4 linked regions of the Homo sapiens genome follow. The protein of the gene in region 1 purifies or fractionates together with the protein of each later gene. This does not show direct contact. Each region holds a gene or a part of one and is shown on either strand. Other genes may lie near its edges.

Region 1 (7,339 bases):
ATCACTGCCTTAACCCCGTTGATTCTGTCTCTCTCTGTTCTCAACCCAGTTAATCCACCATTTCACCTATAGTAACTTGCCAGTTAAATCCACTGTTCTGCACCTGCACTTGGATAGCTGAATCTGGCTGGAGAAAAATGCATAGCTTTGTTGACTTGTCTCACTTTAAATCTATAACCACAGACCCCAAAAGGGACCCTTGGCAATACCTGGCGGTTCTGTGTTTCCCTGGTTGATTCATTTACCAGTTCTTTCAGATAATTATTTCACAATTTGTCTTCTCTCCTCAAAGCTCAGTACATCTTTCCACGTTCTCCCTTTTCCTGAGAAGTTTACTCACTGAGAAGTTCAGGACTTCGAGACCAGCCTGGCCAACATAGTGAAACCCCATCTCTACTAAAAATATATTTAAAAAATTAGCTGGGCATGGTTGTGTGCGCCTGTAATCCCAGCTACTTGGGAGGCTGAAGCAGGAAAATTGCTTGAACCCAGGAGGCAGAGGTTGCAGGGAGCTGAGATTGCACCACTGCACTCCAGCCTGGGCAACAGAGGGAGACTGTCTCAAAGGAAAAAAAAAAAAAAGGAAACGAAAATAGGAGCAATCAGGAAACTTGTATGTGCTCCCTCCCCGAAATCAGCAGTCTTCTGTTATGCAAATGATACGTCACTGCCCCTAAGGCCAACCCTTCACTGGTGCCCTGGATCCCATCCCCTCTCACCCACTGCACTCCAGTCTGGGTGACCGACAGAGCGAGACTCCGTCTCAAAAAAAAAGACTTTCCTCTTGAAATTACTCCTCTCTTTCTTGTGTCCTCAAATTTTCCTTCTCCACTGTATCGTTCTTACCAGCTTACAACTGATACCTCTTTTTTTTTTTTTGAGACAGAGTCTCACTTTGTTGCCCAGGCTAGAGTGCAATGGCGTGATTACAGTTCACTGCAGCCTCTACCTCCTACGCTCAAGTGATCCTTCCACCTCAGCCTTCTGAGTAGCTGGGACTACAGGCATGTGCCACCATGTCTGGCTAATTTTTTAATTTTTTTGTAGAGACAGGGCCTCTGTACGTGTGCGTGCATGTAATTAGGTAAGCAAAGATACTGTGTGCCAGTGGGAGTATGGGCTTGTATCAGATGATGCTGTTGGGTTCTTGTGTATGTTCTGTGCTTTTCTGGTCTAATTTCCCCAAGACAGGACTGGACCCAGAGCTGGCTTCCAGGAGATTCACAGACCATCACAGCTGGAAGGAGGCCAAGAGAAAACACAGTCCCCATTCCTCACTTCACATATATGGAAACTGAGGCCTAATTTTTAAATGTTTTTGTAGAGGCAGGGCCTCATTATATTGCCCATGCTGGTCTTGAACTCCTAGGCTTAAGTGATCCTCCTGCCCTGGCCTCCCAAAGTGTTGGGATTACAGGCATGAGCCACTATGCCCAGCCCAATCCTTTATTGATGGAAATTTTTCTTATGTCCATTTCTTCCTTCTTGCAAATATCTGTTTGTATACCTACATACTGGTGGAAAAATAACAACATAAGGTAAATGTTTGGCAGTAGAAATATTAGGTTAAGTGGCATGTTCATTTTTAATTTGTTTTTGAGAAAGGATCTTGCTCTTTCACCCAGGCTGGAGTGCAGTGGCATGATCTCGGGTCACTGCAACCTCTGCCTCCCAGGTTCAAGCGATTTTCCTGGCTCAGCCTCCCTGAGTAGCTGGGACTACAGGCTTGTGCCACCACGCCTGGCTAATTTTTGTATTTTTAGTAGAGACGAGGTTTCGCCATGTTGGCCAGGCTGGTCTCGCACTCCTGACTTCAGATGATCTGCCTGCCTCGGCCTCCCAAAGTGCTGGGATTACAGGGGTGAGCCACCGAGACCAGCTTTCATTTTTAATTTTTGTGATTACCAATTTGCCTCCTAAAAAAGTTGTACCAGTTTATATGGCTACCCACACTTCATGCGATGCCTGTGTACTTGTCCAAACTGGGTGTTATTGAGCTTTTACTTTTTGCTAATCTATGATGTGAAAATGATATCTTTTTCTGATTTACGCTTATATAATTCTGAGTGAAATGGAACTTCAATTTTTTTTTTTTTTAATTTTTTTGAGACGAGGTCTCACTCTGTCACCCAGGCTGGGCTGGAGTGCAGTGGTGTGATCTCGGCTCACTGCAACCTCCACCTCTTGGGTTCGAGCGATTCTTGAACCGTGCATCACCATGCCTGGCTGATTTTTGCATTTTTAGTAGAGATGGGGTTTCTTTCTTTCTTTCTTTCTTTTTTTTTTTGAGCAGCAGCAAGATTTATTGCAAAGAGCGAAAGAACAAAGCTTCCACAGTGTGAGAGACCCGAGCGGGTTGCCCGAGATGGGGTTTCATCACGTTGGCCAGGCTGGTCTTGAACGCCTGACCTCGAGTTATCCACCCGCCTTGGCCTCCCAAAGTTCTGGGATTACAGGCATGAGCCACCATGCCCAGCCAGTAACATTTTATAATGTTAAAAAGAATCCTGTAGGCCGGGCGTGGTGGCTCATGCCTGTAATCCCAGACCTTTTGGAGGCTGAGGTGGGTGGATCACCTGAGGTCAGGAGTTTGAGACTAGCCTGGCAAACATGGTGAAACCCCATCTCTACTAAAAATAGAAAAATTAGCAAGGCGTGGTGGTGGGTGCCTATAATCCCAGCTCCTCGGGAGGCTGAGGCAGGAGAATTGCTTGAACCCAGAAGGTGGGGGTTGCAGTGAGCTGAGATCATACTACTGCACGCCAGCCTGGGCGACAGAGTAAGACTCCATCTCAAAAAAAAAAAAAAATCCTGTAGATAGTTTAATTGGGATCATATAAAAGATATATTTTAGGGAAAATCAACATTTTTAGCTGATTGAGCCTTTCTCTTTAAGAAAAATATATGTTTATTCCATTTTCTATTTATTCAAGGTTTTTTTTAATATCCCTGTGGTATAATATGAAATATATAGTTGTCATTTTGTATCCATGGGAATTGTTCCCAGAACCCCCTTGGATGCCAAAATCCTTGGATGCTCAATTACCTTTTTTTGTCCTTTTCTTGTAGAGATGGGTGTCTCACAATGTTGCCCTGGCTGGTCTTGAACTCCTGGGCTCAAGCGATCCTCTCACCTTGGCCTCCCCAAAGTGCTGAGATTGCAGGTGTGAGCCACCATGCCTGGCCTCAAATCCCTTATATAAAATCAGATAGTACTTGCATATAACCTATGCACATCCTCCTGTATACTTTAAATTACAAGTAACTCTAGGTTACTTGTAATACATAATGCAGTGCCTACTCATCACTTCATTCACATGGATTCAACTTAGTACTTAGCATGGGGCAAAATTTAAGTTTTGCTTTTTGGAACTTTGTGGATTTTTTTCTTCAAATATTTTTGGTTCTAGGTTGGTTGAATCCAGGGCTGTGGAACCCACTGATACTGGTATGGTATTTGGTATTTGGCCTTTGTTTTGTTTCTGTCACAGCTCTTTTTTTTTTTTTTTTTAGATAGTCTCACTCTGTCACCCAGGCTGGAGGGCAGTGGCTTGATCTCGGCTCACTACAGCCTCTGCCTCCCACACTCAAGCGATTCTTCTGATTCAGCCTCCCAAGTAGTTGGGACTACGGGTGTGCACTATCACACCGAGCTAATTTTTGTATTTTTTTTTCTTTTTTTGAGACAGAGTCCCACTCTGTAGCCCAGACTGGAGTGCAATGGCGCGATCTCTGCTCACCACAACCTCCGCCTCCCAGGTTCAAGCAATTCTCCTGTCTCAGCCTACCGAGTAGCTGGGATTACAGGCTCCCACCACCATATCTGGCTAATTTTTGTATTTTTAGTAGAGGCAGGGTTTCACCATGTTGGCCAGGCTGGTCTCAAACTCCTGACCTCAAGTGATCCGCCCACCTCAGCCTCCCAAAGCGTTGAGATTACAGGCGTGAGCCACCGCACCCTTCCTGCTTCTTCTTTCTTAATACTTATTTATTTCTCTTTACTGATTGAATGCACCCCCAATATAATGTTACAGTAGCCATCCTTGCCTTCCACTGGCAGTGCTTATAGTATTTTATAATTAAACGTGGTTGTAACTTAAAAAAAAGTCTTTTTTAGTTCTTCTGTGAATCAGCTTTGTTCCCTTTAGAGATTCAGTGAGTCTTCTCTGTCTGCATCCAAATGTTGGTTCAAACCTTGAGCCTCACACCCTGCCTGAGGCACCCTTCTCTGGTTTGATGTTGAACTATTGTTCAACAGTCAACTTTTTGGTTGTGCTTGTTTATCTGGCAACAGGTCCTTCGATCAGGACATCCAGTTTACTGTTGCCATTGATTTCACAGGCCTATGAGAGATACCCTGTCAAGGGCCCCTAAAAACCCAGATACTCCATGCCCTTGCCATTCCCCTGATCTAGTGACCCAGCTGGATAAATGAAAAGACACAAGGGTTGTGCAAATGAGCAGCTAAGTACTGGGAGCTTCTCCAGCTTTCTGAGAAAGAGGAGGGTGGCCCCAGAAGGCTCTGACTGGGTCCAACCCTGCAGCATCTCCCTGAGATGCTGGCATTCCTTGGGCCGATCCCACAGCAGCTGCAGTGGTGTGCTGGTGAGAGAAGATTGTGTGGATTTCTTTCCAGCTTTGTATTCAGCGACAACCTGTTTGTGGTTTGTAAGCAGCCATCGTGGAAGTATTTACACAACGGCAAGCACTAGGACTCAGGCCCCCCCACCTTTCTCTGCTGGTGCTCCTTGGAGAGGCACCCCGTGGCGGTGCAGTTTTGGGGCTGCAGCCTCCTTCTTTAGAGAAGGGGCAGGTGCCACTGCTCTCTGAGGGAAGGGCCTTGAGAGAATAGCAGCTGACAGTTCTTCCCTCCCTACTTTCTCAAGAACCCCAGTTTCTAACTCTACCCTTCCCTTTGGTGTCTCCTCAGGATGTGGGCTCTCTTGATGAGAAGATGAAGAGCTTGGATGTGAATCAGGACTCGGAGCTCAAGTTCAATGAGTACTGGAGATTGATTGGGGAGCTGGCCAAGGAAATCAGGAAGAAGAAAGACCTGAAGATCAGGAAGAAGTAAAGCCGCCTGGCTGAGATGGGGTGGGCAGGGCAGAGCTGATCAGGGCCGAGCAGAACCGCACTCTTCCCAAATAAAGCTTCCTCCTTGAAACACAAATGTTTCTTACTTACACCCCATCCTGATTTCTTTTCTTGAGACCAGAGAGTGGGAAAGCTCTCTCTTGACCTGAGGATGGATCTGAAAATTATGAGCCCCTTGAGGACAGGGAATGTTATTCATCTTTGAATTCCGCAGCATCTAGCACCAGGTCTTGTACAGAGCAGGTGCCCAATAAATGGTTGAATGAATATATGAAAAGTAGAGGCAGAGGGCTGGGCACAGTGGCTCACGCCTGTAATCCTAGCACTTTGGGAGGCTGAGGTGGGTGGATCACTTGAGGTCAGGAGTTCGAGACCAGCTTGGCCAACATGGCTAAACCTCATCTCTATTAAAAATACAAAAATTAGCTGGGCTGGTGCCTGTAATCCCAGCTACTCAGGAGGCTGAGGCAGGAGAATCACTTGAACCCAGGAGGAGGAGTTTGCAGTGAGCCGAGATCGCACCATTGCACTCCAGCCTGGGCGATAGGAGCAAAACTCCATCTCAAAAACAAAAAACAAAACAAAACAAAAAGAAAAAAGAAAAGTAGGGGCAGAGATGTGGGGCAGGAGAGGTGACTCGGGCTCAGCTGCATGGTCCTGCTCTGCTTCTTTTTTCTTGGAGTTTGTCCGTTGGATGACAATGATAGTGGTGAACAGGTATGGAGGGCTTACTAAGTACCAGGTGCAGTGCTAAACATTTTGCCTGTATTGTCTTAGTTAATTCTCACAGTCCTTTGAGGAAGGCACTATTTTTAACTCCTGTATTAAAGATCAGGACACAGATCTTAGTTAAAGTCATAAAGACAAGAATAGGTGGATTTCAGAGCTCTGATTAACCAGGATCCTCTCTGGCTGGGTGCTCAGGAACACTAGGGCCTCCTCCCCTTACCCTCTGGAGCAGTGGGGAAGCCAGAAGGAGGGGCCCGATGTTCTGCTCAAGGACCGTGGGGTGAGGGTGTGGTGGTGCCACCGGAGGCAGAACTTGCCTTGCCTTCCTGGCTTGAGGGGCATATGGTGTACACGGCCACCACCAGAGGGAGCAGGGGCGGGCATCTCGGTGACCAGCCTCCCAGGGCTGTCACTGCCTCACTGGCAGGCATCCATGCAGGGCAGCTATGAGTCCAGAGGAACCTTTAGGCTGAGGGAGCTCCCTGACCCTCCGTTAGAGAGCCCCAGACTGAGACCTCAGAGAGACTCCCAGACTGGGAATCCAAAGGGCCATTGGCAGAGACATTCAAGAGGGGCTCCTGCACTGAAGGGCTCCCTTACCGTGAGAAGCCCTGTGAGGAACCCCCTAGCCTGAGCCTCCTCCTGAGGAACCCAGGCTAAGTCACTCTCAGAGGAACCCACAGGCTGAGAGACCCTCAGAGGGACCTGCAGGTTGAAGCCCTTCAGAGGAACTCTCAGAATGAGACATTGTTGGAAGGTCCTCTCCATTGAGACACACAGGGCCCCAGGTTGAGAAGGTGACATGAGGAGGGATGTAGTGGGGTGTGCTCTGATCTCAGCGTTTAGGAAAGGATCCTGGGAACTTTGGCTCTGGGCCGCACCCCATCCTTGCCCTGACTCATGCCTACTGCTCTGCCCTTCTTCCTACCCCCTCCCAGTGACTTCAGGTTCTAGGTGTCTGGGCCTGGGCAGGTGAGGAGGGCCACTGGGGTTGGGCTCTCTGGGATGTCATTCTGGGTCCTGGATGGGGGGCTGTTGCTCTGCAGCTGGGTTAGGGAAGGCATGGGGCTCTGAGGGAGGGAGAGAGAAACACGTGGCCCGACCAGTTTGGAGTTGGTGTTAGCTGCCAAGCAGCTCAAGTGGGCCTTGCATTTGTGCACTCTGGGCCGCTGAGGGGAGCTGAAGGGAGGTCAGGCAAACACTCACTCAATCTGCCTCCCTCCATCAGGCTGCCCTTCTCTGGCTTCCTCCTGATCCAAGTTCTCTACATTCATCTCTCTGCCTCCAGGACTGGTAAAGGCTGGGCTCTGGGATCCAGGCAGGCTTGAGTGTCAGTATCCAAGCTGGGCCTGACTGGGAGAAGTGTGCGTGTGCGTGTGTGTGTGTGTGTGTGTGCACGTGAGAGAGAGAGAGAGACAGACAGACACACATGGAGGGTACAGAGGCTCCTGCTTCTCCTTCCTGGTCACAGATTCAGACCCCCTCTCCTTCCCTGCCCTGCAGTTCGCCAGGGCCC
Region 2 (7,735 bases), 7.2 Mb from region 1:
ATGACCTACTCCAAAATCCAGTAGTTTAAAACAACTACCTATTTAGTTAGTGATTCTGCTAGTTGGCAATTTGGGCTGGGCTCAGCTAGGTGGTTCTTTTGGTTTCCTCTTGCATCAGTCATGCATGTGTGGTCAGCTGCCAGACTGGCCACGGGTGGCTGATTCATTTATTTATTTTTTATTGTTTTTTGAGATTAGGTCTTGCTCTGTCATGCAGGCTAGAGTGCAGTGGCATGATATCTCGGCTCACTGCAAGCTCCATCTCCCGGGTTCAAGCAGTTCTCGTGCCTCAGACTCCCAAGTAGCTGGGGTTACAAGTGTGTGCCACCATGTCTGGCTAATTTTTGTATCGTTAGTAGAGACGAGGTTTTACCATGTTGGCCAGGGTGGTCTCGAACTCCCGACCTTGAGTGATCTGCCGGCCTTGGCCTCCCAAAGTGCTGGAATTACGGGCATGAGCCACCGCACCAGGCCAGGGCTAGCTGATTTAGAATGGCCTTAGCTGTGTTGGCTTATCTCTGTATCATGTGATATCTTATTCTCCAGCAGGCTATTTTAGGCTTGTTCACAGGTCAGCCAGATGAGGTTCCAAGAGAACAAGTAGAAATGTGCAATGCCTTTTCAGATCTAGGCTTAGAACTAGCAGAACATCATTTTTGCTGCGTTTCATCATGAAGACCAGCCCAGTTCCAAGAGACAGGGAAATGAACCCCATTTCTTGATAACAGAAGGAGCTGTAAAGTCACATTGCAAGGACATGGTATTTTTGCATTCTATCACGCTAGTTCTCTGCTGAAATTCTTAAACTTATGTTTTATTTCCTTGAACATATTAGACATGATTACTTTAAAGTTTATGACTGACAACTCTATTATGTAGATGCCCTGTTTGTTGGTTTCTGTTGTCTCTATTCTTCTGTTGGTTTTTGGAGATGTTTCCTTTTCTTATACTTCACTTTGGATATTGTGTATGAAACATTCTAGGAATAATTTAATGCTCTGGTTGATGTTATTTTCCTCTAGTCATAACTTATATTTGCCTCTAGTTGGCAGCCAGGTTAGGGCTACCAGAGATTCCAGATCATTAGTTCAATCCAGGGTTGTGATGATTCAAAATTGAGCTTCAGTTCCTGTGAGGGCTGTTCATTTCTCGTTCACTCTTACTCTTTGGGTATAGCCCTCTGTGGTACCAACCTCAACACTGATGGATTTTATGTATACCCGCTTTCTAATAGGAGGGACGTGAACTTCATGTTCTCTTAGTTCCTTGAGTTTTATTGTGAGCTCTGCTCAGCTTCTCAGCCTTTTAGCTGCCATTTATGGAATCAGAAGATGCCTCCAGGGAACAACAGTCAGAAATGCTGATCTCACCTCTCTGAATTTCCTTCTTCCAGATATTGGCCCCATAATTTTTCACTGCTTTATAAACTCTCTGATAACTTTAACAATGTGCTTTTACATGTTGTTCATTTTTCTTCTAGCTATTTTTAGTGGGAGGATTGGTTAGCATGTCTTAACCTGGATTTTCATTACATAATTAGAATTCCTTCGATGATTTTTTATCTCAACAATTAAGGGGATGCTGTAGAATGAAAGTGTTCTGTTTCCAGATCACAAACTCTCTGGAGTCAGGAATCATGCCTTATACATGAAGAGGCCCTGCCTCTTCAGGGGCTGGATTGCAGTGGGACTCAGTAAGGACTGAATAATTGATGAAGACAGTATATGTCCTCCTTGTAGGTTTAGTAATGATTTTTTCCATTCACCTTTGTTCTCAGGGTCTTTGTGCAATATTTGGTAGGTTGACTTGTTCTTATAAATAGTGCTAGGATCGTAGGAGACAGAGACACAGAGATGCACAGCACAGTCTCTGCTTTTGAGAAGCTTTTGGTTTGCTAATGGGCAGAGCCAGTACAAGTCATATAAATATAAATGGGAACCTATGTGTTTTAGTCTTAGGAGCATCAAGATCAAAGAAACATATTTCATCAAACAAATAGTATTACAAGTCCTTTAATTATTTACTTAGTCTCTTGAGAAAATGCCAGGGTGAAGCTGTGGCTTGGAGAGACTGCATTCATAATGCACTGGACATATAAAAACCCCTCTGTCTCAATTGCTCTCTTCTTAATAGCCTCCATTTTAACGGAGCCACTTGTAAAACTCTCCCCATCTCTTATTTTCTCTTCCAAATCCTCCCTGAGCCTCCCCAACTCACCCAGAGAGACTTTTTAATTTCCTGCACCTGCTGGGCCATGCCACATAGCTTTATTACTAAAAATGGCTGTAGGAACTTCCAGTTTTGTACACTGACTGCACAGAATTGCTCTAGGTTGTCACACCCCCATATTCATTAGGTTTCATCTTGATTCTTTGAGAGGCAAGTGCTGGGATCTGCCTGGGAAGTGTAGTTTTATTTTTAAAATTGTTTTCTAGGGAGAAATTTTTGTGGAGACTTTCTGATCACTGAAAAACTGGCAAACATCAATAAGTAATGACCAAAATCCAATGAACCAAGTGCCACGAGAGAGGATTATGTATTCAGCTCTGTGAGAGGATGGTTGAGGGGCCATGAGTTCAGCTTGGACGGTTAGTCTTCCTGGGCCTGACCATTCAGAATTTCCAACAGTCACTACTTGCCATTAGTAGTTGCCTCAGCACTGCTTGGAGGGAGTCACCTTAGATGTGGTATTTATAGCATCATGGTTAAGAATTTATCCTCTCAAGCCAAACTGCTGTCTTTACAAAGAGTAAACAAATAAGCTCCCTAGCACCTGTGCTCCCAGCTACTAGGGAGGTTGAGATGGGAGGATCACCTCAAGCCCAGGAGTTCAAGGCTGCAGTGAGCTGTGATTGCGCCACTGCACTCCAGCCTGGGTGACAGAGTGAGACCCTGTCTCTAGAAAACAAAACAAAAGAAAACAAAAACATAACACCAAACTGACTAGGTTTCAGGCTCATCATTCTTTTAACTCATCATACCTTTTAACTTAAATAGTTAAAATGTATAAAGTGTGAAACCTGCCTGTCACATAGTAAGTACTCAAGATTTTAGCTATTGGTCTATGGGATCCCTCAGACTAGGGACACAGAGCTTGGGGACAAGGGGAGGCAGATGGAGGGGATATGCTTTAAGGTGCTCCTAGGTTCTGGGCTCCTCATACTCATCCCCACCCAATTGGCTTAAGGGAAGTCACATCCAGCTGCCCACATTGCTCAGGCCTGACACTCTTCCCGCTACTTTCAGCTTGGGTTCTCTTTCCTAGGATGCCAGGGATCAGCTGACCATGTGGTTAGCATCTCGGGAGTGCCTCTTCAGTTACAACCAAACAGCATACAGACGAAGGTTGACAGCATTGCATGGAAGAAGTTGCTGCCCTCACAAAATGGATTTCATCACATATTGAAGTGGGAGAATGGCTCTTTGCCTTCCAATACTTCCAATGATAGATTCAGTTTTATAGTCAAGAACTTGAGTCTTCTCATCAAGGCAGCTCAGCAGCAGGACAGTGGCCTCTACTGCCTGGAGGTCACCAGTATATCTGGAAAAGTTCAGACAGCCACGTTCCAGGTTTTTGTATTTGGTAAGTCTCCAGGACTGTTCATACTGCCCTCTCTGATTCCTATAGGCCTCTAAGTTCTGTATTTCCAATGCCTTTCTGATCAGAATCTCTGCTTCCAGATAAAGTTGAGAAACCCCGCCTACAGGGGCAGGGGAAGATCCTGGACAGAGGGAGATGCCAAGTGGCTCTGTCTTGCTTGGTCTCCAGGGATGGCAATGTGTCCTATGCTTGGTACAGAGGGAGCAAGCTGATCCAGACAGCAGGGAACCTCACCTACCTGGACGAGGAGGTTGACATTAATGGCACTCACACATATACCTGCAATGTCAGCAATCCTGTTAGCTGGGAAAGCCACACCCTGAATCTCACTCAGGACTGTCAGAATGCCCATCAGGGTAAGTGGAACACACTGGGCTATAACAAGCGCTGAAGGTTTGGACCCCGCAACCAGGCTCATGTGCAAGACAGATGTGGTATGAGATAAAATCCCTTGGCCTCCTCTCCCAGTGCCTTGTAGCCCTTCCCAGGGTAGCCCTGGCCTCCAGGCACACAGTTCCTGTAAAGCTAGGCCTATCCTACTCTGGAAAAAAATGTTATCCCTATTTCCTTCTGGGAGATGCAAGCTTTTCTTCTGCAGAGGGAGGGCATAGTTGTTTGGTGAGTGACAGTCCTGAAATGGCTCCTGAACATTATTTTCTTCCTGGGAGAGGCTGATGGAGAACTGTCCTCTCCTCTTGAGTGATAACTTTCTCCAAGCCACATAGTTCAAGAGGTAACTACACTGTGCAGCAGTAGCCTGGAGCAGGAGCATCAGGATGACCCCAGGGATACCTAGATGAGTTCTTGGGCTGTTGCTTATGCTCATCCTAAGAGTTACCTGAGTTACCGTTCCACAACTTTTTATTACATAAACAGGGACTTAATGTACCAGCAGCATGGGCATTATAGGAAAAAAAAACCATACAGCTCTCATTCATAAGGAACTTATAGCCAAATGGGGCAACAAAAATAACTACTTGTGGACAAAAAAGAAACAAGACTGAGGCAGGCCGGGCGCAGTGGCTCCCTGTAATCCCAGCACTTTGGGAGGCTGAGGTGGGTGGATCACAAGGTCAGGAGTTTGAGACCAGCCTGGCCAACATGGTGAAACCCTGTCTCTACTAAAAATACAAAAAATTAGCTGGGCGTGTTGGCGGGCACCTGTAATCTCAGCTACTCAGGAGGCTGAGGCAGGAGAATTGCTTGAACCCAGGAGGCGGAGGTTGCAGTGAGTCAAGATCATGCCACTGAACTAGGACACTGGCTTCATCATTCAGAAGCTCTGTGATCTCTTAGAGGTCAGGTGTGGTGGCTCACACATGTAATCCTAGCACTTTGGGAGGCTGAGGCAGGTGGATCACTTGAGTCCAGGTGTTTGAGACCAGCCTGGACAATATGGTGTAATCCCATCTCTATTTAAAAAAAAAAAAAAAAGAAGCTCTGTGATCTCTGGCAGATTCATTAACCTCTCTGAGCCTCAATTTTCTTCCCCCCTTGAGTAAAATGGGGGTGATAATAAGTACCTCACAGGATTGCTGTTAAGAGTAAATGAGATAATGTTTGCAAAGAGCCTTGTCAGCCCTTGGAACACTTAATTCCTTTTCCTTCCTCTTGTTGGCTGGATTATATATCAGGCTACATGTGTGACACAAATCTTTTAAGTAGAAGTTCAAATGAGGAAGAGCCATGAAGGAAGGAATAGTGGAAAAGTGAGACGGAAAACTTGCCTGTACAATGAGTATTTTTTGAGTTAAAAACAAAGGAATGGATAAATGTAACATTTGTTGTGCTACATGTCCCTCAGTATCCATGACGAATTAGTTCCAGGACCCACCTCGCAACCACAGATGCCAAGATCCACGAATGTTTAAGTCCCTGGCATAAACAGGTGCAGTTTTTGCATATAACCTATGCACACATCCTTCTGTATACCTTACTTAAGTCACCTCTAAATTAGTTATAATGCCTGATACAATGTAAATGCTATTTAAATAGTTGTTATACTGTATTGTTTAGGGAATAATGACAAGGAAAAAGGCCTCTACATATTCAATACACATGCATTTTTTTTCCCTGAATATTCTGGATCCACAATTCATTGAATCCACATTGTGGAACTCAAAACTTTGGAGGGCAACTGTATTAGATCATGTAATTAACCCCTATAGGTAGATAACGTTATCCCCTTTTACAGGTGAGAAAATCTAAGAGGCTCTGAGGCATCTTCCAAAAATAAGATGACTTGAGAGGCCCAGAGAGGTTAAATAAATAGTGCAGAGCTCACAGGGTTAGAATTTGAGCCAGGCCTGTCTGATATATCTATGCTCTTGGCATCACTCAGAGGAGGTTAACCAAATGAGCAAAGAGAAAACCTTGACCGTGAGTTCTCAGAGCACGAGGCAATCAGCCACAACACAGAGAAAAGTGGGTTTTGAGGCAGCCCCTGCAGCAGGCAGGTGGGAAGGAAGAAGAGAGCGAGCTGACAGCTCAGTTCTCACGCCTTCTGTATTCCTCAGAATTCAGATTTTGGCCGTTTTTGGTGATCATCGTGATTCTAAGCGCACTGTTCCTTGGCACCCTTGCCTGCTTCTGTGTGTGGAGGAGAAAGAGGAAGGAGAAGCAGTCAGGTGAGTGGAAGGTCCTTAGGGTGGTGCTCCTGCCTGAGGCCTTGGATCCTGTGACTTTGTCCTGCGTCCAGTGGGATGTGTCTGGGAGCACAGCATCTCCTTTTCCTCAACGAGCTTTGGTATGTTTGTGTGCGTGGTGGCGGGGGGCAAGCAGGTTGCTAGGCTCTCTCTCCCAGTTCATGCCTTCTGATCCCAATGCGCAGATTTCCCTGTAGACAGCTGGTTTGGGAGGAGGTGTGGGAGGGGCAGTTCGGTTGCTGCCTCTGTGCTCTTTGGGGTTCCTGGGAAGAGCATTAACTTGCCTCCTTTCTAGAACCTTTTTTAAGGTTTGGCCATTTGGGGTAGAGGTGGGACCTGTTAGAAGCAAAAGCCCTTCTGGAGGTTTCTGCAGCTCTGCTCTTTGTTTTCTTCCTCCCTCAGAGACCAGTCCCAAGGAATTTTTGACAATTTACGAAGATGTCAAGGATCTGAAAACCAGGAGAAATCACGTATGTCATCCCGGAGGCTGGGGTCTCTCTCAGCTGGCTTGGAAAATGCTCTTTCAATGATGGTTATTCAGAGCAGAGGGACAAAAAGGACTGAACGACTGTCCTTTTGATGTGACCCTCAGCCCTTCCCCATCTATCTTTTCTCCACCTGCTTCCTAGTTCTGGTGATGGAGGAAAAGAGGAAACAAAAGGAGCAGAGGAGATGAAAGGGAGGCTGAAGGGGCATCTTGGTGCAGAATTGCACCTGCTGAGAAGGGATGGAGCACAACAGAAATCAATGACAGAGGCAGAGTGCTGCTGTGGTATTTGTTGTCTGACCACAAATTCTTTTTCCTAATGAGTCAGGGCTTACATTCATGAGTCCCTTAATGGTGACACAGGCTGGGAAGTGTGACCAGCCAAAGCATAATAGTTTTGTAGCTGGCTCAATAGGCTGCATTCACAGCCTTTTGGAAGAAGAGGCCTGAGTGTGGCTGAGGTACTAGAGAGAGTAACCAGCCTGGCACAAAGCCCACCAGCCTGAGTAGGCTCCTCCAGGAGCCTCTCGCCTGCTCTTCGCAGCAGGCAGGGGCCAACTCTGCCTGTCATCCAAGAATTAGAAGAGGAGGAAATTGCAGAGGGCCTGCAGATGCCCCCACTGCTGTGTCTCGCTTAGGGCAGATGTGGTGACAGGCCCAGGGGAAAAGCTCTGATGGAGCCTACCAAACTGCTGGCAGGAAGTGGGGCAGGGTGGGTGAAGTGGGGCGGAAGTGCCTTCTTTCCACTGCCCCCTGGCGCTTTGCTGTGGAGACCCAGCAGCACGCAGGAAGCACATGTGGTGGGGCTCTTCCGTGCTGGCCACATACGTGAGGCCCTGTGCAGCCTCGCAGAGCAGGCAAGCATCCTCTCCCAGATGCCTCTGGGTTCAGAGGCTGTTAGAGCAGCTCCCCATGCCTGTTTTTTTATTTTTATCTTTATTTATTTATTTATTTTTGCCCCAGCAGTGGCTATGGGAATGTGAAAAATAAAGCAGTGGCTAT
Region 3 (7,453 bases), on another chromosome or scaffold:
CATTAAATGCATTTACATTTCAATAATTTTCTTTTGAATAAACAAATGAACAGTGATACTGGTTATTTGTACTTGAAAGTTACCAAGAGCCAGATGGTAACATTGCCCTTCTTTCCTGCAGACGAAGTTATACGGAAGCGTCTCCTCATTGATGGAGATGGTGCTGGAGATGATCGGAGAATTAATCTGCTAGTGAAGAGTTTCATTAAATGGTGCAACTCTGGGTCCCAGGAAGAGGGGTATTTCATTTTCACTGTTGTTTCCATACCAGTGTCCTAATGTGATTTTAGGCCCTATATTAAGGTCCTGTGAGTAGATCAAATTTTCACTCACCTTAAATGTACAGTGGAGTCAACTCTTAATTAACCAAGAGTAGATTTTCTTGGCCTTTTCTTCTCTTCAAAGGCCTCTCATATGTTTATTAAAACATGGAGAAGGCAGATTGGTAAGGAGAAATGAAGATTAAATTCAGACTCATTAGTTTGGTTACTTTTAGGACATAAGTGTTTAGTAAGATAAAATATCTAAATGGAATTTTCTCCTTTGCTAATAAAAGGCTGCTGCTATGTATGTATATATTAAGTTGGTGCAAAATTAATCGTGATTTCTGCCATTAACTTTAATGGCAGAAATGGCAGAAACCACGATTACTTTTGTACCAACCTGATACACACGCACACACGTATATCTAATCTTTTTTTTTGTGAGACAGAGTCTCATTCTGTTGTTCAGGCTGGAGTGCAATGGCACAATCTTGGCTCACTGCAACCTCCGCCCCCCAGGTTCAAGCAGTACTCGTGCCTCAACCTCCTGAGTAGCTGGGATTATAGGCATGCAACACCATGACTGACTAATTTTTGTATTTTAGTAGAGATGGGGTTTCACCATGTTGGCCAGGCTGGTGTCAAACTTCTAGCATTAAGTGATCTGCCCACCTTGGCTTCCCAAAATTCCAGAATTACAGGCATGAGCTACCACGCCTAACTATATTTATTTATTTTTTAACATAGCAAACTTTTTCTCATTTGAATTTGCTTTCCATATAAATAATTTTATAGAGTGAAAAAATTGTGGGAACAGAATTGTGAAGTTAAAAAAACATCTTAAAGTATTTCTAAAGTCTTTTAAACAAAATTCAAATAATTGTTTGAATAAAATGTGCATTGATAAGAACAACAATCCCACCTTTGCATTTGTAACTAAAGTAGTTAAATTCAAGAATACTACATTTGATAAAAAGAAAACTTAAGGGACAGATATTCTAAATTTTAAATAAGCAAATGATTCTCTCAGAACTTGCTATAATTTAATTAGCAAATATTTGTCTGCATTATAACAGTTCACTTTTGTCAGTCCACAAATATCTTTATTTTGGTTTTCTTTCTTTTTCATTAGATATAGCCAGTACCAACGTATGCTGAGCACGCTGTCTCAATGTGAATTTTCAATGGGCAAAACTTTACTAGTATATGATATGAATCTCAGAGAAATGGAAAATTATGAAAAAATTTACAAGGAAATAGGTAAAGAATCTTAATGTTTCTATCTGTAATTTTATTTTTTATGGTCTAAAGGAAACAATACCTGCTAACAATTTTCTTTGGTGGTAAAAGAATAATAACAATTACTGTATTAATGGAAAGAATACAGTAAATGTTAGCTATAAAAAATGTGTATTCTAAGATGATATAGTACTTTGGGTTACAGCTATTTTTTAAAAATACTAGTGTCTATTTTGTTACCAATAGAGGTTAATTTATAAATGCGTTTTAAAATTAAAAATGGATTATTGATTTTGTTACAACTATCTTTTAAAAAACCTTCTCATATAGAATGTAGCATAGCTGGAGCACATGAAAAAATTGCTGAGTGCAAAAAGCAAATTCTTCAAGCAAAACGAATACGAAAAAATCGCCAAGGTAAGGGTTTTGAGGGATTTAATGTGCAAATACATTATTACTGACTACAGTTTTCATGCAGTTTTTAATGTTGTGAGGTAAAATCTGCAGCCTGAATCAACCTGGATTAAAAAAAATCCAAATTTTAATTCCTTAAAACTATATTATTCTTTAAAATAGAGAAGGAAGTCTGTGTTGAGAAGAATGTTTTTGCTGGATTACATTGATTATCCAAGTATTTCTTTTCTGTTTTTCTCTTTTTTTTTCTTATCCCAGTATTTCTTAAGTATTAAATTTTTACCATCTTGGACCCTTTTGCCTAAATAATGTTATGGTTAATCAGCAGAGGCAATTTACATAAATATACTAGATTTATGGTTTGGGTTTTTTGTTTGTTTGTTTAATAGAGCTACTTTCCAAAAAATGAAATGGAAAAGAATTTAAACTCTGAGTTTTCATTAAGTACAAAGCAAGCAAACATTTCTAGACTGCCTAGAATATCTAATAAGAAGGTTAAAGTTGAGTTTTGTTATAATCTCTTGTTTTTAAGTTAGAGTATACCCTTATGTAGTTCCTAAATACTATTTCAAGATAATTTTTAATGTTAGAGGCACTGCTCTTCTTATAATGTAAATTGAAGAAAAGTAAAAATAAAAAATATAATGTGTAATCACAACTGTTACATTGATATGAAAAACTAGAAGAAAATAGAAAATGTTAATGGTTATTTTGAAGTTGTGGGTTTTTATGGCTTAGGTTCTTTTCTCTGTTTTTGTGTTGTTTTGTTTTGTTTTACATAGGGCATGTATTATTTTGTAATTCAAAAAATTTGTATCCAAAAGAATCATACTTTGAATTAATATGCTCAGTTCTAAAACAATGAATTTTCACTTTTTAATGAACTAATTAAGATGAAGCTTAATTTCCTCTTTTTACAAGTTTTTTTTTTCAGTTTAAAATGTGTATGGTGAAGTTTTGGTGCCTTATTTACAGTAACATATACCAACTTAGTATCAGTTCTAAAGTCATCTAAAAATATTTTGCAGTGTTTTCGTTGGTTAATGAGGCTTTTAAGTAAATCCTGCCACTCATCACTTCATAAGAAAGCTTAACAGGAGTTACATGACTTATCTTGGAGGTCTCAGTGGAGCAGAAAATAGAACCTGAATTTTAAGTTATTTGCAAGTTTCTGAAATCTTAACTTTTGGAATGAGTGAGAAGTGTAATTTGCTGTTGACTAACAACTCAGATTAATGGTAGGATATATTCACTGATTGTATTTTATTTTATTTTACTTTTTGGACAACTAGTGAGTAAGATCCTTCTCAGAATCAGTCTATTTGATAATCAATAATAACTTAAATTTGCTTATGCTTATGCTGACCTCTTACGTTCTGTCCAGGACATATAAATGGAAAAAAAGTGGGAGCTAAAACCCCTGTTTGGAACACTTTTGATGTTATGTATCGTTATAATTATAACTCAGTTAACTAAAACTGGCAATACTCATCTTTCAGTGATTTCATTTCTTGATGTACTAGGAAAGTGATTAGGAGAGGTTTGTGATATTACACATTTTGTTTTGATAATTCACATTCAAAAAATCCTTAGTTTGATAAATATTTTTATGTCTTACAGAATATGATGCTTTGGCAAAAGTGATTCAGCACCATCCAGACAGGCATGAGACATTAAAGTAAGTGTAGAGCTTTACTTTGAAAGGAACTAACCTTTATACATAAATGCTCGAAAACTACCGTAGGCATTTCATTTTTGCAGAAATAAATATGTTTCAAAAGGAGGGGTCAGATATTCAATATTATATTTTCCCATACTTCTCTGTTAGATTTTATTTTCCTCTAACCTTACCAGCTATATGTCTAAAATAAATGCATATAATATGCATCAATATCACAATGGATAAATAGAATATGGTCTTCATATATTAAAATATTGAATTTCAGTTAAAAAGAATAAACTAGTTATGCCCTTTTAAAACACAGCTCTCAAAACATAATCAGTGAAAAGACACATAATAAACTTTAAATTATATTTAAATTCCTGAAACACATACAGAATAATAACCATTTATAAAAGTTAGAACCCCCTTTCAAATATTATATACCAATACTGTGTATTATTCAGGGATACAAGTATATGCATAAAAAAGAATAAGAATGATATAGTAGTTGCCTGAGTGGGAGGTAGAGGAGATAAAAAGGCCCAGGATAGAGGACTAGGCGTAAGATTCAAAGGGTATTTCGAGTTAATTGGCAATGTTTTATTTCTTTTACCAAAATAAAAAACCCTCGAAGTTAAACTTCACAATATGTATCATTTCTTGGGTCTTGTTATTCTGTTATCTGTATTTTTCTGTACTTTAAAAATGGATCCAAAAATGTAATTTTAATGAAAGTGAGTCCATATTTAGAAGTTAAGAAGAAATCATCCTCAGCTTTAAAAGTTTCACCATAATGGAGTGTTATAACTCCTTATAAGCCCTTTTTTTATTTTAAAAATCCTATCTAGTAACTTAAAAGTTAGGCATTAATTGTAAACTCTTCTCCCCCATTCAGCAAAATGTAACACTGTTTTATTATTTCCAGGGAACTAGAGGCTCTGGGAAAAGAATTAGAGCATCTTTCACACATTAAAGAAAGTGTTGAAGATAAGGTATTCGCATATATATTTAGCCTTCATGATCTGTCTATCTGTCTGTCTATATATCTATATATACAGGTCATTTGTATAAATTTTTTTCTTGTTAACACAGCTGGAATTGAGACGGAAACAGTTTCATGTTCTTCTTAGTACCATCCATGAACTTCAGCAAACATTGGAAAGTAAGTAGAAATAGTCTCAAAGTAAATGCTTATGAAGATTTTTTAAATGACCCAGGGATGTACCTTTTGAAATATACATCTTGGAGAGACAGTATACCTTCAATTTCTGAACAGTGTAGCTGGATGACGTTAGAAGGTACTCATGTTCAACTTTCTTGAATACATGTAGAAAAGTCTTAATTTGTAGTAATATAGGATTTAAACATATACATAGTGGTTTAAATTAAGAAAAATTCAAGGATGATAGATTTGGAATCTTTCTTGGTTCACTGTAGTTGACTACTATAATATAACAACTCAGGACCCAGGCAGGCAATAATAAGAAATCAGTACATACGAACATTTGCATACCCACTGAGTAGTGGGTGCTTTGGGGAACTGGAGACTTGCTCTTTATATTCACTATAGGCAAGTGGAAATTTTTGTGTTACCTGATCTTCTGATTGTTTTAAAGAATAGCCTAAGACCCATTTTTTCTTTTCTTTTTTTTTTTTTTAAGACAGTCTTGCTCTGTCACCCAGGCTGGAGTGCAGTGGCACAATCTTGGCTCACTGCAATCCTCACCTTGCAGGCTCAAGTGATTCTCCTGCCTCAGCCTCCCTAGTAGCTGGAATTACAGGTGCATGCCACCACACCCAGCTAATTTTAGTATTTTTAGTAGAGACGGGGTTTTACCATGTAGGCCAGGCTGGTCTTGAATTCCTGACCTCAGGTGATCCACCTGCCTTGGCCTCCCAAAGTGCTGGGATTATAGGCATGAGCCACCAGACCCTGCCTGGATTTTTTTTTTTTTAAGTGAAGTCTATCACATAAATTTTAAAGTTTGATTCAACTAGTAGCCATCTTAGCTTTAATTGTATTGGCTAATAAAGGATAAACATGTTTTCATGTGTTCATCGAATATAAAATATAGGCAAACTTGACTAAGGTTTTATGTTTCCTTCTCAATTACAGATGATGAAAAACTCTCAGAGGTAGAAGAAGCTCAGGAAGCAAGCATGGAAACAGATCCTAAGCCATAGACAGGCTAATTGCCCACCACTCCCAGGAATATTGAAATAGCTACATGACCATAATGTGTTTAAAATGTGGTATGCTCTTGAGATATTTAAAGTTTTGGCAGTAAAATACTCTGTTTTTAAGTATGAATGTATTTCATTCATATTTCCTCTCACAAAGGAAAATGACTTCAGTATAGATTTGTTTTTATTAAAATGCATTTTTTATTCTTAAGTGGTAGGAAGCAACATCCAAAAATGCTTAATAAAATGCTTTTAAGCTGCATATGTTTGTGCTCATTAATATTCTAGGTAGTTTTTAACTGGTAACATTGATTGGCTTACAAAATAAGTTGAAAATTGTTAGAAGTTGGCATTTCTAGGATGTACATGGGAAAATGAGCCAATTTCTGGAAATGGTTACACTTCTGAAAACGGAGTCTATGAAGAGGCTTTAGGAGGACCATGAACCTGTGAAATTACATGCAAAATGTTAGTGGTGTATGCTTATTGTGGAGAGAGGTTCCAGGCTGTTAAAATTCGCTGGTATGGGACGTTAATTATAAGATGCAAAGTAAAATAGTGCACATTACTTTATATATCTCTCCTTAATATGAGAGGAATATGGTTCTCAAATGTTTTGTTGATCTGTTTTCTCTACTGTTTTGTTCTTTAGGAATCATTTTCAATAGAAAAAGATGTATTGATAAAGTGAAGAGTGTTTGAAGTAAATAGTTTGTTAAGATTGTTTTGCGTAGGCCAGGCATGGTGGCTCACACCTTTAATCCCAGCACTTTGGAAGGCCGAGGCGGGCAGATCACCTGAGGTCAGGAGTTCGAGACCAGCCTGACCAACATGGAGAAACCCCATCTCTACTAAAAAAAATACAAAATTAGCCAGGTGTGGTGGCACATGCCTATAATCCCAGCTACTCAGGAGGCTGAGGCAGGAGAATCACTTGAACCCAGGAGGCGAAGGTTGTGGTGAGCCAAGATTGCACCATTGCACTCCAGCCTGGGCAACAAGAGTGAAACTCTGTCTAAAAAAAAAAAAAAAAAGATTGTCTTGCATAAAGAATTTATAATCTTTTTAAAAATTAAGCTAAGGCGGAATCACTTGTAATTTTCTTAAGTATTTCATTATATGTGTAATACTTGTTCAGCTCCATCCTTATCCATTTATTTTAGTTCAGAAACATGACACTTTGCATGAATCATACCTTAATGATGTTACATTTTTGTAATTTTAATAATAATTTTTATCTTTAAAAATGAAAGTTTAAAATTAGCTCAGTTGTAGTCATATTAAAAGTGTCATAATACATATAAATGCTTCCTCTAATTTCATCTGGCAAGTCATGGGAGAAATTTCTTTGCAGAATTGCTATGCTGTGACAATCGTTTTTATTTTCCATTATTAGTAAGAATTATGAAACAAAAATTTGCCTATATTGACTCAGAATTAAAAATCCATTTTTCTTTTTTTTTCTTTTCTGAGACAGGGTCTTGCCCTGTCATCCAGGCTGGAGTGCAGTGGCTTGATCACAGCTCACTGTAGCCTTGACCTCCCAGGCTTAAGCAATTCTTCTATGTCAGCCTCCCGAGTAGCTGGGACTACAGGCAACACATCGCCATACTCAGCTAATTTTTAAAAATTTTTCGTAGTGACAGATTCTCACTATATTGCCCAAGCTGGTCTCAAACTCCTGGGTTCA
Region 4 (7,735 bases), on another chromosome or scaffold:
GATGGTTCATGCCTGAAATCTTGGCCCTTTGGGAGGCCGAGCCGGAAGGATCACTTGAGCTAGCCCAGGCAACACATAGAGACCCCATCTTTACAAAAAATATTGTAAGATTAGTGGGACATGGTGGCCTGCACCTATTTTGTCCCAGCTATTCGGGAGGTTGAGGCGGGAGGATTACTTGAGCCAGGGGGTGGAGGCTGCAGTGAACCATGATCACAGCCCTCACTGAACTCCAGCCTGGGCAACAGAGTGAGAACCCATCTCTAAATAAATAAATAAATAAATAAATAAATAAATAAATAAATAAATAATCTTGTTTTTCCGAATTTTGGGGGCACTATTTAAGATATTTTGAAACCTCACAGAGCTTTTTTGGGGAACTTGTTGCCTTGGAGATTAGCCTGTCCTGTCCCGCCCCCATGATCTGTACTTCCTCTTTCTCCCTCCTGGCTTCCTTAATTAAGCCTTGTGTGTACTTGCCAGCCCATGTCCATCACGCTCTGCCTTCAATTCTAGATGCTGTGCTGTGAATACACTTAAGTGGAGGCCGCATGCTTCCCAGGAGGGTGTGTATTTTCAGTGTTGTGTCTCATGATAGTATGAAAGGCTCTGGAGAGAATCACAGGCTTCCACAAACAGGCAAGGAGAAAAATGTTCCACAGACATGTTTCAGGGAAAACAGGCTTCCCAATCCTAGGCCGTGCTGGTCCATAATTGGATCAGGCTGACTCTCCTTCCCCTACACTGCTGGTGTAGACAGGGACAAGAATGAGAAGTCAGAGACACAGAGAAGCTGTGATTTGCTTGAGGTCACTAAAGTACTTAATGGCAGAGTTCAGACCTGACCTGAGGGGCAACAAAAGACACCCCCCTCAAATCCATGGGGAGCAGAGTCTAACTGAATCAGATCCCAGATTTCCTGGGGCTCTCACGGTGCCAGGTGTGTACACTGAGCTAGGATGGGTTTCCCAGGGTTCTGTGTGGTCACACAACTCAACAATACAGACCAGAAAGCAGTGGCAAGTAGGCTGAATTTGGCTGGTGGGTGTTTTCTGTTTGGCCTGCACAGTGTTTCTTTTAACGTTTTATTATAGGAAATTCAAACATGCAGAAGGAATTGTACCATCAACAACACACACCCATCACTCTGCTCCAACAATGATCAACTCAGGCCTATCTTGCTTCATCCTATACCCTCCCTCGCTTGCTTCCTTCCCACCCTCAGATATGTGGAAGCAAATCCAAAGATACCATTCCATTTCAAATATTTCATTTTGTATCTCTATAATATGGGAATTTGGGGGGTTTCAAGACAGGATTTCACTTTGTTGCCCAGGCTGGAGTACAGTGGTGTGATCATGGCTCACTGCAGCCTCCACCTCCCAGGCTCAAGGGATCCTCCCACCTCAGCCTCCCAAGTAACTAGAGTTAAAGGTGTGCACCACCACACCTAGCTATTTTTTTTTTATTTTTTGTAGAGATGGGGGTCCCATTACGTTGTTCAGGCTGGCCTCAAACTCCTGGGCTCAAGTGATCCTTCTGCCTCAGCCTCCCAAAGTGCTGGGATTATAGATGTGAGCCACTGTGCCCAGCCAGGAGCTTTTACATAATCCTTTTTGACAAATTTTCCCCCAAGAAATTAGAAAGTTTTATAGAAAAAAAAAATCCGGACTTCTGTCTTCTCTTAAAAATTTGGAAGCTCTGCCAATACTGGGCCCAGATGGCAATCACTGCTTAGCACGGAGTAGATGTTGACTTTTCAGATGAGGGGTGTGACATCTACTTTGCCACAGTCCCCACCACTCCCCCACCTGGCCATCTCACCCATACACATCACCTGCCTGGCTCCTTTAGGCATTTAATTTGTGTAGGAAATTGACCTAAAGGAGATATTAGAGAAGACATTAAAAACTTGAAGAATGTGAAAATCAGCCAGGAGATAGAACTGTGCTTTAATGCGGGTTATAGAACGACATTGGATATGAAGCATTTTGGGAATAAACTTTGAAAATTGGAAGTACCAGTTTGTGAATTTTGCTGAGAGAGATGAAGGTGGGGGGTGGGTGACAGTGGTGAAGCATCTCCTATGTGCCAGTCTCTTTTACCACAGGCTGTTTCTCACAAAATCATCAATCATATGCAGCAGGTGAAACACCTTCCTATTTTACAGATGAGGAAACTGAGGCACAGAGAGGTGAAATAGGCTTCCCAAGGTCACTCAGGTCATGAGCAGCAGAGCTAGGATTCAGACCTGGAGTTGGCCTGACTCTAAAACGATGCATGCCTCACCATGGCCCATCACTCCTTTAAAGAGCACCAGAAGAGAGAATTTGACAAAGTGGTTGCCCGTGGGGCCTGGGATGGGTGGGGAAACCACGCTAGGCCTCGGGGCTGCTGAGGGCCTGAGGGAAGGAATGGGGAGCCCGGGCACAGAAATAGAGGAGGGGGCTGCCCCACGGCTACAGAAGGCATCTGGGAAGACGCTCTGCTGAAGGTGGCCAGGAGGGCAAAGGTCACAGTGGCCATTGTTATATGGTGGTGGTGGGGAGAGGGGGATGGCTTCTTCTTAACCTCCTCGGGTGAGTCGAAGGTTTACCCTCCAGACCCTTGATGGGTCCCTTTGGTCCCTTGGGCTTCCTGAGTCTCCAGCCAGGGCCTGGGACCTTTGCTGGGAGCTTAGCATGGGGTCCAGCAGCCCCCATTGCTACCTAATTCCTTAGCAGCCCAGGGTGTCTGCCTGCTACTTCCCTGCCTGGAAGGAAGGCCTTCTGCCTGGTGCATTCCTGCTGCAGCCTCCACTGCCTCTTAGACTCTCACACAAGCTCAGCTCCCTGTCGCGTCCTCTCAGGGCCAGGCTTCTCCTTATCACAAGCTTAGACTGTCTGAGTAACTAATTGGATTTGTGTTTGCCTCCACACAGGACCCTAAGACCCGTGGGGCTGCGACTCCCTCTGTACTGGTCACAGCCGCACCCTATCCCCTTGCATGGGGCTGTCAAACCCAGGCTGGCCACTGACTAGCGCTGGAGGGGAGCAAACGGGAGGCCGGCCACCTGACTGATGTTCCCACACCTTCTCCCTGCAGGCTGTCCCCTTTTCTGGGACTATTCAAGGAGGTCTCCAGGACGGACTTCAGATCACTGTCAATGGGACCGTTCTCAGCTCCAGTGGAACCAGGTGTGTGTGTATATGGATGGAAACGTTTCACTCCAGCCTCGTCCCTTAGTAAACCACTGTGCCTGTGAGCCTGGGTTAGTTCAAACAGCAACATCCAAGCTCACGTGCCTGGCTCAGGGGAGGCCCAATGCGTCCCTAACCCATGCCACAGGGCAGCACTCCACAGGCACAACCTGCACCCAGGGGTGCCATTAACCTGGACTCCAGGATGAATGGGGCCCTGGGAGCTGACGGTCTAAGGAGGGCGTGGGATGGTCAGAGTTGGATGATTATGTTCTGGGTTGAACCTTGCACACTGTGACTAAGAGTTGCAAAAATCAAACTTCCTCCATTTCCCGTAACTGCTCTCATCCACTCTGAAGCTCTCCTTCTGCTGATGTGAAAATATTGAAAATTGCCATCAAAAGTAATTTGGTCTCTTTTGGTTTCAAGGCCTTTTCTAGAAACTACTAAGTCAATTCAACATACTAACATTGTATCAGGGCTGTTTCCCACCCCCTCCTCCCTCCCAAGGTGGGCTGTCTGGGAACAGAGAAGAGCTCACATGGCTTCTCAGTGGCTGGGAGGGCTCTAGACCCTCACTCAGGCCTGGCTGACCCCTGCCGAGGCACCCCGACCGGGTGGCACAGAGGTGTGCAGCTCTCTCCTGGTTTAGTGGGGGACCATGGGTGGCTGCCTGCTGAACTCTGCGGGGCCCACAGAAGAGCCTCTGGACTCATGACTCTCTCTCGGAAGCCTCTCTGCCTCAGTCCCAGGGGACCTCTCCTTAAGACCTTCTGGGCCTCACAGATCCCAGCTAAACCTCAGCTTGGACACCTAGATTCTTGGTGACCTCCTCCGCCATTGCCATCCTGCTGTGGGACTTCTCTGAGAGACTGCGGTGCCCTCAGGAGATGCCAAGGGCAGGGAGGCCCCGATCTCCCTGAACCCTCCAACCAGGGGAATCAGGACCATGACCCTGATCTTCCGCCCCTTCCTCTCTCCCTCTCCCTCCACCTCCCCCACCCCCCAGCACCAGGAGGGCTTCCCACTCCCATCCTGTCATATAGAGACAGATCCTACCTCAGAGGGCCCTCTCCTCTTGGGAGCTTTCTGTCTCTCCCTTCCTTGGGGCAGGAATTTCGAAAGGACTACAGGGATGAAGCTGAAGGACTCCAAAGGAAAAAATACATGCAGATATATTTCAAATGCAATCTTCTCCATTTATTCATTTAATTAATTAATTTTTTTCTTTTGAGACAGGGACTTTCTTTCACCCAGCCTGGAGTTCAGTGGTATGATCATAGCTCACTGCAGCCTCAAATTCCTGGGCTTGAGTGATCCTCCCATCTCAGCCTCCGGAGCAGCTGGGACTACAGGAGTGCACTATGATGCCCAGCTAATTATTATTATTATTATTTTGAGATGGAGTCTCGCTCTGCCACCAGGCTGGAGTGCTGTGGCGCTATCTGGGCTCACTACAACCTCCGCCTCCTGGGTTCAAGTGATTCTCCTGCCTCAGCCTCCTGAGTAGCTGGGACTACAGGCTCATGCCACCATGCCTGGCTCATTTTTTGTATTTTTAGTCGAGACGGGGTTTTACCATGTTGGCCAGGATGGTCTCGAACTCCAGACCTCGTGATCCACATGCCTCAGCCTCCCAAAGTGCTGGGATTACAGGCGTGAGCCATCATGCCCAGCCAATTTTTTTTTTTTTAACTAGAGATGAGCTCTCACTATGTTGCCCAGGCTGGTCTCAAACTCCTGGGCTCAAGTGGTCCACCCGCCTTGGCCTCTGCGCCCAGCCCCAATTTCACATGCTCTTTACATTTGTTCTCTTCTTTCCCATTTAATCAGGCATGTGCTGGCCTCCAACAAGTGTCCACTGGCACAGAAGGCTCTCTCTTCTAGGTGTGCTTAACAACTTCCATCTTCGGTATCAATTGGTAATCACTTTCCAAGACCTATGTTTCTTGTTTGCTAATACCAGCACTTTTCCTTAACCGTTTTCTATTTGCTTTTAGCAAATCATGCTGTAAAGGCAAAATCCAATAATTAAAACAAAAACACATTAGATCCCAATTAGAAAAACAAAAACGATGCCAACAAAGCAGTCTCTGCCATACAGGTTGTGTGCAAGATCCAGACAAATGCAAAGCACAGGCGCCGAGGCCCTCCTGTGCCTGTCACTGGCAATAATCCATGCCACAGAAGACTATTTGCTTTCCCTGGGCCTAGGTTTGCTGTGAACTTTCAGACTGGCTTCAGTGGAAATGACATTGCCTTCCACTTCAACCCTCGGTTTGAAGATGGAGGGTACGTGGTGTGCAACACGAGGCAGAACGGAAGCTGGGGGCCCGAGGAGAGGAAGACACACATGCCTTTCCAGAAGGGGATGCCCTTTGACCTCTGCTTCCTGGTGCAGAGCTCAGATTTCAAGGTGAGCAAGAATCCCCTCCCCACCTCTCACCCCTGGGACCCCCAGCCCTATCAGGTGAATGGCCTTTAAGTAATCACCTAAATTGACATTCAGCCAGAGTGACACCACTATACAGATAACACGCTCATTTCCTTGTGAGGTGTTACCCATGGCTGCCTAGTCTCCTTATGCACCTTCATCTGAATCTACAGGTGCACCTGCTGCTTCTTTTACTCTGAAAATAAGAACTAGAGGAGTCATCACGTTGCTATTTGGTGTTGTGTGTCTTTGAATTCCAAGCTCATTCCATTCCTCTGCTATAGCCATTCCTCCTCTCCAGGTCACTGGTAACATTTATTTTTCAGCGACATCGTTCCAGCCTTTATCCAGGGTCTATTAAGGGTATAGTTTTGTAAGCACATTGCAAATTACCCTTGCAAGCAGAGTAGGTCTCTGGGCTTGAGAAGCCTGTGGGTAAGTCAGTCCAAGTATGCTTATCTGAGATAAGGATGTCCCCATTCGTTCAGTATGCAACCTGAGGTCACCTCTCCTCTGCTCCCCATGAGCATTTTATGCATATATAAATAATACCGCTGCAGCCATAAAAAGGAATGAGATCATGTCCTTTGCAGGAACATGGATGGAGCTGGAAGCCTTTATCCTTAAACTAACGCAGGAGCAGAAAACCAAACACCACATGTTCTTACTTATAAGTAGGAGCTGAACGATGAGAACACATGGACAAAATGGGGGGAAACAACACACCCTTGGGCCTGGTCGGAGAGGGAGAGCATCAGGAAGATTAGCTAATGGATGCTGGGCTTGATACCAAGGTGATGGGTTGATCTCTGCAGCAAACCACCATGGCACCCGTTTACCTAGTTAACAAATCTGCACATCCTGTACTTGCACCCTGGAACTTAAAATCAAAGTTGAAGGGGATGGAAATGGCAGATCACGCCTATAATCTCAGCACTTTGGGAGGCTGAGGAGGGCGGATCGCTTCAGGTCAGGAGTCCAAGACCAGCCTGGCCAACATGGTGAAACCCCATCTCTACTAAAAATACAAAAATTAGCTGGGTATGGTGGTGGGCTCCTGTAATCCCAGCTACTCGGGAGGCTGAGGCACGAGAATCACTTGACCCACTGCACTCCAGCCTGGGCGACAGACTGACATTCCATCTCAAAAAACAAAAAAAAACAGTTGAAGGAAAAATAAATAATTAATAAATGAAACCCCAGGTGAGCTAAGACTAGAAAGACAAACCTACTGCAGGAAACAACCAGAAGAACGAAAAGTCCAACTGGAGCCTGGTAGAGACTCGGGTTGATGCACTTTGGGTCACACACACGTTCCTGTAACTGGCCCCACACTGAAGACCAGACTCAGGTCTTCATTTTCTAGAAAGAGGGTCCAGGAGCTCAGGGGTGGTCCCCATCCCAGCCTGGGATGCCTCCCCCAGAACATGTGCTCTCCTCTGGCAGGTGATGGTGAACGGGATCCTCTTCGTGCAGTACTTCCACCGCGTGCCCTTCCACCGTGTGGACACCATCTCCGTCAATGGCTCTGTGCAGCTGTCCTACATCAGCTTCCAGGTCAGACTGTCCACCTGGCACCGGTCCCAGGGGCTGGGATGCAGGGCCCAGCGTAGCTGTGTCTAAGCCCTGCTGGGTGGGCCCAAGCCAATCTCCTACCCAGGTCACTCTGGGGACAACCTCTGCTTCCCTGTCCCAGTACCTGCCCGCCCCTTCTCCTCTGTCACTCTGCCCCTCCTTCTGTGTTACTGTCTCTGTCCGGAACACCTGCCTTGGTCTCCCAGACTCCTCAGCTGCCCCTTTCTCTTCATCCCTCAGTTTCCATCCTGGTAAGGAGGGCATATTGTTCTAGAAAGAGCCCAGGCTCAAGAACCAAACTGAATCCAGTTCAAATTCCCAGCTCTGCCATTCATCATCTGTGGGATCTTAGACAAGCAACTTCACCTCTCTCAGCCTTGGTTTCTTCATCTGTAGAATGGTCATTGCCTGCCCCCCATGGGTGGTTGTGTGGTTCAGTGAGGAGACAGATATCAGAGGTCACACAGTGGCCCCCCTGGGCCCACACCAGGGTCTGTTTGACCTCTGTGTTTTAACAACTTTGAATGTGTTGCCAACATCTAAAAGG

The links.
Region 2: the proteins of S100A13 (region 1) and CD244 purify together in Homo sapiens (co-immunoprecipitation; one large-scale study listed by IntAct). This does not show direct contact.
Region 3: the proteins of S100A13 (region 1) and THOC7 fractionate together in Homo sapiens (co-fractionation; one large-scale study listed by BioGRID). This does not show direct contact.
Region 4: the proteins of S100A13 (region 1) and LGALS9 purify together in Homo sapiens (co-immunoprecipitation; one large-scale study listed by IntAct). This does not show direct contact.

Annotation. Positions count from the first base shown.
Region 1 is NC_000001.11:153,616,630-153,623,968, reverse strand, and holds the end of S100A13 (protein S100-A13), read left to right. Parts: intron 1-4,930; coding exon 4,931-5,074; 3' UTR 5,075-5,170; downstream 5,171-7,339. UniProt on the Homo sapiens protein: Plays a role in the export of proteins that lack a signal peptide and are secreted by an alternative pathway. Binds two calcium ions per subunit. Binds one copper ion. Binding of one copper ion does not interfere with calcium binding.
Region 2 is NC_000001.11:160,837,432-160,845,166, reverse strand, and holds part of CD244 (natural killer cell receptor 2B4 isoform 1 precursor), read left to right. Parts: intron 1-3,265; coding exon 3,266-3,583; intron 3,584-3,666; coding exon of another isoform or gene 3,667-3,681; coding exon 3,682-3,957; intron 3,958-6,117; coding exon 6,118-6,228; intron 6,229-6,648; coding exon 6,649-6,716; intron 6,717-7,735. UniProt on the Homo sapiens protein: Heterophilic receptor of the signaling lymphocytic activation molecule (SLAM) family; its ligand is CD48.
Region 3 is NC_000003.12:63,832,442-63,839,894, reverse strand, and holds the end of THOC7 (THO complex subunit 7), read left to right. Parts: intron 1-121; coding exon 122-239; intron 240-1,395; coding exon 1,396-1,523; intron 1,524-1,832; coding exon 1,833-1,919; intron 1,920-3,536; coding exon 3,537-3,594; intron 3,595-4,504; coding exon 4,505-4,571; intron 4,572-4,671; coding exon 4,672-4,741; intron 4,742-5,695; coding exon 5,696-5,763; 3' UTR 5,764-6,025; downstream 6,026-7,453. UniProt on the Homo sapiens protein: Component of the THO subcomplex of the TREX complex which is thought to couple mRNA transcription, processing and nuclear export, and which specifically associates with spliced mRNA and not with unspliced pre-mRNA.
Region 4 is NC_000017.11:27,635,179-27,642,913, forward strand, and holds part of LGALS9 (galectin-9), read left to right. Parts: intron 1-3,084; coding exon 3,085-3,176; intron 3,177-5,393; coding exon 5,394-5,595; intron 5,596-7,059; coding exon 7,060-7,170; intron 7,171-7,735. UniProt on the Homo sapiens protein: Binds galactosides. Has high affinity for the Forssman pentasaccharide. Ligand for HAVCR2/TIM3. Binding to HAVCR2 induces T-helper type 1 lymphocyte (Th1) death.